Linked DNA regions of Homo sapiens. The protein of the gene in region 3 interacts with the protein of the main gene of each other region in a pairwise test. Each region holds a gene or a part of one and is shown on either strand. Other genes may lie near its edges.

What was found.
Region 1: the proteins of C1GALT1 (region 3) and SLC18A1 interact in a two-hybrid assay, tested with the Homo sapiens proteins (one large-scale study listed by BioGRID).
Region 2: the proteins of C1GALT1 (region 3) and GPR101 interact in a two-hybrid assay, tested with the Homo sapiens proteins (one large-scale study listed by BioGRID).

What each region holds. Positions count from the first base shown.
Region 1 is NC_000008.11:20,145,136-20,148,785, forward strand, and holds part of SLC18A1 (chromaffin granule amine transporter), read right to left. Parts: intron 2,936-3,650; coding exon 2,872-2,935; intron 2,588-2,871; coding exon 2,468-2,587; intron 2,257-2,467; coding exon 2,123-2,256; intron 742-2,122; coding exon 628-741; 3' UTR 1-627.
Region 2 is NC_000023.11:137,031,787-137,035,536, forward strand, and holds the start of GPR101 (probable G-protein coupled receptor 101), read right to left. Parts: upstream 2,210-3,750; 5' UTR 2,016-2,209; intron 1-2,015. UniProt on the Homo sapiens protein: Orphan receptor.
Region 3 is NC_000007.14:7,230,975-7,234,624, reverse strand, and holds part of C1GALT1 (glycoprotein-N-acetylgalactosamine 3-beta-galactosyltransferase 1), read right to left. Parts: intron 323-3,650; 5' UTR 306-322; coding exon 86-305; intron 64-85; exon of another isoform or gene 1-63. UniProt on the Homo sapiens protein: Glycosyltransferase that generates the core 1 O-glycan Gal-beta1-3GalNAc-alpha1-Ser/Thr (T antigen), which is a precursor for many extended O-glycans in glycoproteins.

The DNA.
Region 1 (3,650 bases), on a different chromosome or scaffold from region 3:
TAGAAGACACTTTTCACTGAGGGTAAAGCCCTTTTAGCAGCTCTAGATTTAGCCACAGAAAAATCACTCACTTTATTAAAAAAAAAAATAAATGAAAAAAAACAAAACAAAACTCTTCAAGCTGGCATTTGGCAGCAAGACAATGCTGAGAACATTTTCTCAACTCGGCTGGGAAAACCCGGGAAAGAACACGTTGAGGAAAAGAGGGTAACACTCTTCCGATCTGTTGGGACTATGCCAGAGAAAATCAGGCAACAGATTAAAGAGGCTTGTCAGTCACCCCACTGGTTTCAGGGGCACATTACTCACTACCACCTCTATGCAATGAGTCACCCCTTGCAGAACCCGTCACAGCTCAAGTTTAATCAACCTCACAGCAGCGGGAAGGTGCATCACTCTGTCTTCCCATAAAAGATGGGCCACTGCGGCACCAAGGCATAGAGGAAGAGCTACAAGTTACACAGGTGAGAAGAGTATCAGGGACAGTGTCCATGGGAGGGGAGGAAAGAAGATTCCCAGGCAGAGGTATGTGAAGCCCACTGAGCCGTGGGCTCAGCCATGGTGATCTGGTCCCAGGGAAAGAGGTGGTCACTGAGGCATCATGAATTCAAGGAGCACCTTCTGCTGCTACTCCTCATGGTCAGGCTCCTCATCACTGTCCTCCCCCAGAGGAAATTCCTTCGTGGGCTTCTGGGTTGCATACATCCGGGTCTCCATGGGGCAGTCCTGACTCAGAATAGCCTGCAGAGAGAGGCAAGAAGAGAAGCCACTGCACATTATTATCATTTTTTTTTTTTTGAGACGGAGTCTCGCTCTGTTGCCCAGGCTGGAGTGCAGTGGCGCAATCTCGGCTCACTGCAAGCTCCGCCTCCCGGGTTCATGCCGTTCTCCTGCCTCAGCCTCCAGAGTAGCTGGAACTACAGGCGCCCATCACCACGCCAGGCTAATTTTTTGTATTTTTAGCAGAGACGGGGTTTCACCATGTTAGCCAGAATGGTCTCGATCTCCTGACCTCGTGATGCGCCCGCCTCAGCCTCCTAAAGTGCTGGGATTACAGGCGTGAGCCACCGCGCCCGGCCAACCACCGCACATCTTTTTTTTACCAATCTCCTCATTCCGTCCTCCCACTAGTTCTTCCAAGGCTGGCATTGCTAAGTACTCAAGAAACATGCATAGGACCCTCTGCATGTACATGCACCAGCCTCCCGGGGTACCTAGTATATCAACCCTTGTCAGGACAAGTATCTCATTTGCTTTTAACTGAATTTAACAGTGGTAGTGAAAGTTACAGCAGGAAGCCAAATGGAATCACCACCACTCCCTATCACACCTTCATGTCTTCTTTTGTTCCCTTGAGCAGCCTCTGTCGGTATCCCAAACCCATCAGGCCCTCAGGATGTTTGTGCTGCAGTAAGAGGAAAGTGCTTTATTAAAGAAAATCCTATGGTATGGATCTCTTCCCTGGGGTTTTTGTACTTTTAAAAACGTGACCTGCTGACCAACATGGATAAACCCCATCTCTACTAAAAATACAAAAAATTAGCCAGACATGGTGGTACATGCCTGTAATCCCAGCTACTTGGGATGCCAAGGCAGGAGAATCTCTTGAACCCGGGAGGCAGAGGTTGTGGTGAGCCGAGATCACACTATTACACTCCACCCTGGGCAACAAGAGTGAAACTCCATCAAAAAAAAAAAAAAAAAGTGACCTGGTAAGGATAATGTTGCACTAGAGTGAATGAGTGGATGAACGGATGTGCCAATGGAATTCTGCCCACTTATGAGGGAGTTAACTTGGTAACTCACATCTTGCTAGTAACTAGCAAGCTAAGAACAGTAACTACAGGATGTCTTTGATGGTCCTCTGCCCCCATTTCCCTTCTCTACTGAAGACCCTTCCTGATAGCCCCAGAAAGAGGGAAGTGGTTACTTAGAGAAGGGAAATTAAGGAAGTGCACAAAAGAAATATGAAGATGAAAGGGGATTGGGAAACATGGCAAAGCAGAGAGAGTATCAACAGAGCAATAGAGGGAGGAAATAACAGCCCAGGATGAAAGGGAATGAGAGAGATGATGGAAAGAAACAGAAGTGAATTTCTCTTTTAACAGTCGGTGCTCCTTACAAGCTTCTCTTCCTTTGCCGGGGGGCTCCGCAGGTAGTAGCAGAGTGGAGCATAGACGATGTTGATGACCCCAGTGATGACCATGAGCCAGGGAAAACCGATGGCCTTTACAATGGCACCACCGGTGGATGGACCTGGGAGGGATACATCAAAGTCATAAGTGTCTATGGAGCCTCCATATGGAGCATCCTCCACGTAGGACACTATGCTAGGGGCAGTGGGTGACCCAGAGGATGTCTCAGCGTCAAAGATCTCCAGAACCCTAGGAGGATAGCTTCCTGGCTGCACTTCCAGCTGGTAAAGAGTAGACAGGGGAAAGTGGGGCACCAGGTCCTGCCAACATACCTATAGCAAAGCCCATGCAAAAAGCCACATCAGCGATGGCGTAGACACTCCCATACACCGAGGTGTGGCGTAGATCCACCAGGTGCCCCATGATGGGCATCATAGAAGAATCCACCATGCCTGTGGCCAGAGCAAACAGGACACAGTCAGCCCCACCCACAGTTAGTACCACCCCGCCTCTCCTCCTCCATTTAGTCCATTTGCTTTGTCTGCTGTCTTCTGCCTCGGACTAACACCTGTTCCAGGTGGGAATTACGAGCTCATCTCTCCACAACCCTGCCAGCTGCCCTCCTGATCCTTCTGCCTCTGCACCTACCTCCTCTGATGAGAAAAGGGGGAGGAAAGGCATCAGACCCAAAGCCAACATGCAGGGGCTTATTGTTTTCTTTGAGGGCACTTCTTACCTATGGCAAGGCCAAGCCCTGCATTGGGGCCAATGAGACCAAAAATATTGTGAGCCAGAGGAACCTGCATGGGGAAGGAGGAAGAGTCATCAGGACTCCAGATGGGTCAGGTGGGAGCAAGGTTCAAAGAGTTTTCACATGAAATGCATTTATTCAGAGTGCACTATTGGCCACATACATCATCCTCCTGCACTCTCAGACTTTCTCATGGAAAAGAATCTATACCTCCATTTTAAGGATATGAAAACTTGACCAGCGCTGTTGTGTTTATTTATTGCTCTATCCAGAGTTACAGATCTAATGAGTGGCAAGATCAAGTTTGGACCTCAGACTTGGCTCCATTATGCTCTAACGAGGGTCTTCCTCTGTTCCATGGATACTTTCTCCCCTTCCTCTACCCCTCTTCACCTAAACATACACTCCTGGTCTCATTCTTCATGGAATAAAGTTGCCTCTGTTTTCCATTATGGACATCACTGAAAGGTTTCATTTAGACTTCTAACTTGGTAGCTGTTGGAAAAAGAAGATAGAGAAGAGGCCCCAACAACCAGTTAGCTGTAAGCTAGAGGGGGCAGGTGGTGTGGCTTGGGTCCCCTGTCAGGAAGCTTGTGAGACTCATTCCCATTGCCCTCCCAATCCCCCAACAAAAACCCCTTCTTCCCTCTTTTTCAGGTTCCTTACCTCCCTCTCTGGGTACCTGCCATTCAAACCTGCTACCCCAGGACACTCACCCCTTAAGGGTTTAGCATACCGTTTAGATGCTGCTGGCTGATAACAAT
Region 2 (3,750 bases), on a different chromosome or scaffold from region 3:
CAGGCAGAGTTAGTCACCCGTCAAGGGGAGAAGCCTCCGCGCCCAGCAAGGACGCTGCAGGACCCCCTACCCCGGGTTTCCGCACGGCTCCATCCCCAGTGCGGGCAGCTTCTATGGCTCCTTTCCGGACTCTCCAGATCTGTCTGCCTGTCTCTCTCCAGGGCTCTGATTTCCTCTCATCTGTTTCTCCTGCTGGCGCGTGCGTGCGTGCGCTTTCTCTGCTTGTCTCTCACACTGTCTCTGGCTCCGGGGAGTTTTGGTCGCTAGCGCTAGCGCATGCGCGTGCGCTCTCTGTTTCTGTCTGTTTACGACCGTCAGTTTCTGTCTCTTCTCCAGTGTCTCTCGCTAGCGCACTTTTTTTCTTTATCTCTCGGGTTGTGTGTCTGTATGTGTCTCACCGTTTCCTGATTCTTTCTCATCCTTGTCTCTCACTTATGTCTGTCTCTGTTTCTCCGTCTCTCGATAGCACGTGCACGCTGTCTCTTTCCTGTTACTCTCATTTATCTCTTCCACTCTGTTTGTCACTCAGTCTCTCTGTGTGTGTCTCTTTCGCTAGCGCACTTTCTCTGCAGGGCTTGCGCTCTCGCTCCCTATCTTTCTCACAGTCTTGCCCGTCTCTCCCTCAGTCTCTTTCTGATCCATTCTGTCTCTCTGTGTCTCTGCCTGTCACTGTGTCGCTCGCTAGTTCATGTGTGTCTCCGTCTTTCCCTAGTGCTCTCTTGTCTCTCCATTTCTCTCTCAGTCTATTTCCCCAGCAGTTCATCTTTGTGGGTCCCTAGCGCACCTGTTCAATGTCGTTCGCTGTGTCTCTGCCCGTCTCCGTGTCTCTCCAACTCTCTTGTTTCTGCGTCTCCCTCGGGTTCTCTGGGTGTCTCCTTCTGTCTCTCACTGGCACGTGTGCGCTTGCTCTGTCTTTCTCGGACCCTCTTGTCTCTGTGTCTCTCCGTGTGGTTTCTGTCTCTCCCTGCCTAAGTTCTCTCTGCATTACTCTGCCTCTCTCTCCATTGATCTCTAACACTCTACTGCTTGTCTCACCTGTCTCTCAAGCTATCTCTTTAGTGTGTGCACTCTCTCGTTGGTTTCTCTGTCCTTCACTTTCCTGTCACCCCAGGACTCTGGCTAAACACTTGCTTTGTATCTTTGAGTGTGTGCGCATCTCTATTTCTCTACATCTTTTTCCCATGGCCCCTCACCTTGGTTTTTCTCTGGCTGGATCTCTGTCTCTTTGGATCTCTGTCTCCCTGTGGACTTTATTTTGCCGTGGAAACCACCTGCCGCCCCGGCCACCGCGGGCTTTGGTTAAAAAACCCTTAGTTTATCAGCAGTGCAATGGAGACTGGAAAATGCAGAGAGGATGCCTATTGAGCTCCCCTACCCTCACCCTCCACAGCCCCATCCCCATTCCCAATTTGGCATCCTCTTTGCTTTCTCCGGATCTGCTTGGTGTCGGTGACAGCCGAGGGGAGTGGGAAAGGAGCTGGGGAGAAAGGCAAAAGAGGCAGGGGTGCAGGGTGGTGGAGAGAGTCAGAAAGGCAGGGCGAGAGAGACTGAGAGGCAGAGAGACAAAAAGGAAATGAGAGACAGCGAAAGAATGAGATACATACAGAGAGACAGAGAGAATGTGAGCAACAGAGAGGGAGAAAGAAAGAAAAAAGAAGAAATGGGAGCGTGAGAGTGAGAGAGAATGAGAGAGCAAGACAGACTGGGAGAGACGCAGACAGAAAAAGCAAAAAATAATAAGAAAAGAGAACAAGCAGAGGAAGAGGGAAAGGATGAGGAAAAAACGAGAGAATGGAGAGGAAGGGGGAAAAGAACGCACGAGAAAAAGTGAGAGAGAAAACGCGAGGGCGGGAGGATGGCTAGGGAAAGGCGAGAAGGGGCCGCACCGCGGGCCACCGCGCCTGGTAGCTCAGCAGCCGTCGGGACGCTTCAGAGGGGGCGTCGTGGGCTCCCAGGCTCGGGGCCCTGCCGGGTGCTGGGGGCCACGGAGCCCGGAGTAGGGCCGGGCTGCTTACCTGTTGCTGCTGCAGACGTGGCGTCGCGGGCGCCGCGTGCAGGTCCTTCGGGGCTCCTCGCGCTCGTCCCGGCCGCCTCTCGGGGCTCGGGCGGCTGCGAGCTGGCACGGGGCAGCGGGCGCTGCGGGCGCGGCAGGAGCGGGGCACAGCGTCTGTGCCCGCACGTCCGGCCAGCGCGCCGCGCTGCAAGCTCTGAGAGGCAGCGGGGGCGCGCGGCGTCTTAAGGCAGCGCGGTGCCCTCACCTTGCGGTGCCGCCCTCCCCTCGGCCCCCGCCTGCGCCCGTGACGCACGAGGCCGCCGCAGCCCAGGGAGCGGGGCTGGCAGGTGGGGGGCCGTGCACCAGACCCCACTCAGATTTTCTCACTCCGGGTTCCCACCCCTGGGGCCCCGAGTCCACCGAGAGCTCACAGACTGGGGATTGTCACCGGGGCTGATTTTCGTGCAAACCCCGTGCCTTCCTAGCCCCCTGATTTCGGGCCAGCTCCCAGGCACAGACCCTGCACTATCCTTCCGATTCTTCCAAATAGGAGGGCCCGGGACTCCCCTCGACTTCTGAAAACCCTCCAAAGTATGAATAGCCCCTGAGCCCGAGAAAGGAATCGTGACTTTAATGTCAACGATTTTCCACGAATTTCTCTAGCTCCCAGGAAGAGCTAAGCGGCAGTGCTTTCCCTGTGGGATTTGGAAGCATTTCATTTAAGACAAGCCACATAATTACCCACTATATTCTTTGATTGAAGTATGTCTGTCTGTAAGTCAGTCAGCATCTCTCCCTCTCTCCCTCTTTCTCCCCCTCTCTCTGCCAGGTACTGTGTTAAACTGTTTACACAGAGAATACCGCTGAATCTTTACCCCAGCCTTGTGAGATAAGTACCGCTATTATCTTCATTTTATAGAGACAGAAGCAGAAGCCAAGAAAGATTACCCTACTTGCCTAAGTTCAAGTAAATATTGCACACGTTCTATTAGCCAAGACATTCTGGTCTCTCCTAAACACATACTGGGTATTTGTTGTATATCAGGACTGAGGAGGCCCCCTCTTCCCTGCCCCCAGAAGGTAGGGAAGGTGACCCAGACCAGGGATCATTTGCATTAGATTTCCAAGGGATTAGGAGGTGTTTTCTAGGCAGGGCACAAGGGGAAATGTGTTCTGTAAAAAGAAGATGCATGGGGTAAAACTAGGGCTGCAAGAGAGACTTGAGTTCCAAAGGCTGGGAAAACAGGCTGCAGCATGGTGAGTGCCAGGAGGTTAGCTGGTTAAACTGGGTAGAGACAAATCCTGAGGGGTCTTGAATGCCAGTCTGCAGACTTCGGACTTTACCCTGAGATCCCTGGAGGTCGTCGGAGAGTCGTTTTATTATGAAAGACTTCAAGCATACACAAACGTAATGAGAATAATAAAATAATCCTCCATGTTCCTATTACCCAGCCTTCACAAGGGTAAATAATTTGCCATTCTTGTTCATTGGTGGGTTTTAGGTAGGGCGATATTCTAAAATCAGGGCTGGTGTTGGATGGAGAAAGCTGAAGGGAGGCTGTGGCAGGAGACAAAGAGGGTCTTGACAGGTCCAACAGAGCGGGGCAAGCAGAGACCTACAGAGAGGCAAATTGACAGGGAATAAGGGCAAGGAGGTGTTGGGGAGGGTCTAGAATGAGCACAGGGTTTGGAGTTGGTTGATGGGCTGGATGGAGATACCTCCTCCCCTTCTCGTCACCTGCCTCTGAGACAGGGAG
Region 3 (3,650 bases):
TTTAATTAACAGATACAGACAGGAATATGACAAAATTTAGACTAAAATACTGCTTATGTTTACTGCTTAATAAAGTAAACCATACCTTTATGTTGGCTAGAATCTGCATTGAAGTTCATTTGTCCTTCTAGATGATTCTGTCCATTATCATCTGAATGCCTTGCATGAGGATCATTATGAAGAACATTAGGCTGGGTGTCAACCTTTTCTCCCAACAAAATACTAAATAGCTGAGAACATAAAAGAAATCCTATTGCTGATCCACAGAGGAAGGTTAAAAAATTCAGCCAGGATTTAGAGGCCATTTCCCGAAAGTGTATTTCTGTAAGAACAAAAATTAGCAGGATGTTATAAAATCAAAGCTGTATACATAACCGGAGTAAAAATTCTGGTAACATTTAGCTATAACGGAAAGTTAATTTCTAACAGTATTTAGCTATTATCTATGAGTTTACCCCTCTATTTGCTGCTAAAACAGCACATTATGGAAAATCCATAAAACCAGATTAATTAGTAGGACAGTCACAGTTGGGGTGGGGTATGGATGAGTATGTCAGTATTGCACACAGAATTTCCTATTCTTCCCACCAGGATCCTTTGTGGATCCAGGGCTTCCTGTCGTGTTGTTTTTCTTTCTTTGCTGTTAACTCTGAGTACGGAAGTCTACTTCTTTTTCTCTGGTAGCAACCACCACCCCTTCTCCAACCCAAAAGTTAGCAAACCCTTTCTGTAAAGAACTAGAAATAAAATATTTTTGGCTTTTTGGGTCTCATGTGGTTTCTGTTGCATCTTCTTCTTAAACAATCCTTTATAAACGTAAAAAAACACTTGTAGCTTGTGGAGGACTAGGGTCAGCACAGTTTGAGGACCCATGGACCAAACCTGGCCTGCTACCTGTTTTTGTAAATAGAGTTTTATTTGAACACACCCATGCCCATTCATTTATATACTGACTGCGGCTACTTTTGCCCTAAAACAGCAGAGTGAATAGCTACAATAGAGGCAATATGTCTCACAAAACCGTACCTAGCCCTTTATAGAAAAAGTTTGCTGGCTAGGCACAGTGGCTCATGCCTGTAATCCCAGCACTCTGGGAGGCCAAGGCGGGTGGATCACTTGAAGTCAGGAGCTTGAGACCAGCCTGGACAACATGGTAAAAAATTAGCTGGGCATGGTGGCATATGCCTGCAGTCACAGCTACTTGGGAAGAATAAGGTGAATACTTGGGAAGAATTGGTAAGAATAAGGTGGGAGAATCACTTGAACTCAGAAGGCGGAGGTTGCAGTGTGCCAAGACTGCACCACTCAACTCCAGCCTGGGCAAAAGAGTGAAACTATCTCAGAAAAAAAAAAGAAAAAGTTTGCTGACCTCTGCTCTATACTGCAAGATCTAGATTTTGGATGGAATCTATAATATTAACGAGATTAAGTAGGGTACCTGGGACACAGATGCCTGTTGAACTGCCCCACAACCAAACATTGACATAAACGCCCTTTTTAAGCTTTTGTTAACAATTACTATATGGTGAAGTTATAAACTTCTATTAAATTCCTTAAAAGATTGGTCTTAACTCTAGTTTCCTATTCCTCAAGATAATTAAAAAAATAAGTTTACTAAGCATTTATTATATACCAGAAGCTGTCCATACATTATTTCATTTTAAATAAAATTTAATTTCAATGTCCTTTTTCATTCTCACTAAACCCGTCTGCAGATGAGGAAAGAGAAATTTTAAAAAGGTAATTTTAAACAGGTAATTAATTCATATAGGCTGACACAATCAGAAGGAGCCACAGTTTGAATGTAGGTCTGTGTGCTTAAAAAGCCCATGCCCGGCTGGGCGTGGTGGCTCACGCCTGTAATCCTAGCACTTTGGGAGGCCAAGGCGGGTGGATCACCTGAGGTCAGGAGTTCAAGACCAGCCTGGCCAACATGGTGAAACCCCATCTCTACTAAAAATACAAAAATTAGCCAGGCGTTGTGGTACGTGCCTGTAATCCCAGCTACCTGGGAGACTGAGGCAAAAGAATCACTAGAACCTGGGAGGCAGGACTGCAGGACCGAGATCATGCCACTGTATTACAGCCTGGGTGACAGAGCAAGACTCTGTCTCAAAAAAAAAAAAACAAAAAAAAAAAACCCACGCCCTTTCCATTACATTTCTCAAACTCTTCACCTAATCACCACTAACAGCAGAGGGCAATGGGCAGTGAAAGTAGAGGTCTGGGAAATATAACCCTAAAAATCAAAATTGCTTTGAAATAGTTTGTGAAAGCAAAAGTACAAACCAACAATCACCACTACAATAATAAAAACAAAACAACTTCATGTATTTCTGGAATGGCTGACTAGGTTCTTTTAGTACAACCAAGTGCAATCAGAAAAACTGAACAAAATGTAAAAAAATATAAATATGTGTTTGAAGACACTGGTAAGATATCAAGGCAGTGAGAATTAGTAGGGCCAAAATCTGGAAGAAGGAAGGAAAGAGGCAGACCAGACATCTGGCACTGCTCTATCCTCAAGACAATGACTGATTCTGAAAGAGAAAACAGCAAGGGCAATAAAGCTAAGCAAAAATTAATGTCCAAAGTCTGCTTAGGAGAAGAGGTCCTGAAAAACACCTATGCTCTTATCAAGGACTCTGAAAGGCTACAATCTGAGAATAAGAACAAAACAAAAATAGACCAATCTTTACAACGGCTGAAGTCTACGTTAGAGTCATCTCAGCCACTGACTGGATGATCCGCCCTAGCCTAACTGTAAAAATATTCTCCTGGAGAAATATAAAATCATGAAGAACCTCAAATTATCATGACGACTTTTTTTTTTTTGGTATACAACATGGACAAAATTTTGATACACAATGTCCAAAACAACCAGGCATCAAGATGAAAATTACGGCTAAACACAAAAAAGTAGACAATAGAAACAGAGCCAAAAGACTCAAATAAGATTTTCATATTTTTAGCTTAGAAATAACTATTCTTAATAAAGTCAAGAAATTAAATGGCAAGATTAAGAAATTAGGCATAGAATAGTCACAGCTGAAGAAAAAAATTAATAACCTAAAAAGCTAGGTCAGAAGAAAATACGCAGAATGAAGTATGGAAAAACAAATGGATTGAAAAAGAATTGAGCAAAAAAACAGAATAAAGTGAAAGGGTCTAATGTAAGTGTTAACTGGAACCTTTGAGGGAAGAGACATAACTCAGGAGAAGTGGTATTTAAAGAAATAATGACTGAATATTTTCCGAAACTGACACAGTACCAACCCTCACATTAAAAATCTACAAAACCCAATGAAGATTACAAAGAAAAAGAAAATGTTACCTAAGTACATCAGTCAAACTACTGAAAACCAAGGACAGAAAAAAAAACTTCAAAGGTGTAATAAGATTGACAGCTGACTTTTTAGCAGCAACAACAGAATCAAGACTGCAGTGAACTATTTTTAAAGTGCTAAAAGAACAGAACTACCAACCTAGCATTCTGTATCCAGCAAAAATGTCCTTCAAGAATGAGCCTTAAAAACATGTTCAGAAAAACAAAACCTAAGTGAATTTATCACTAACAGTTCTATTTCTAATTCTTCAGGCAGAAGGAAAAGAATTTCAGATAAAAATTCAGAGATGTAGGAAGGAAGGGA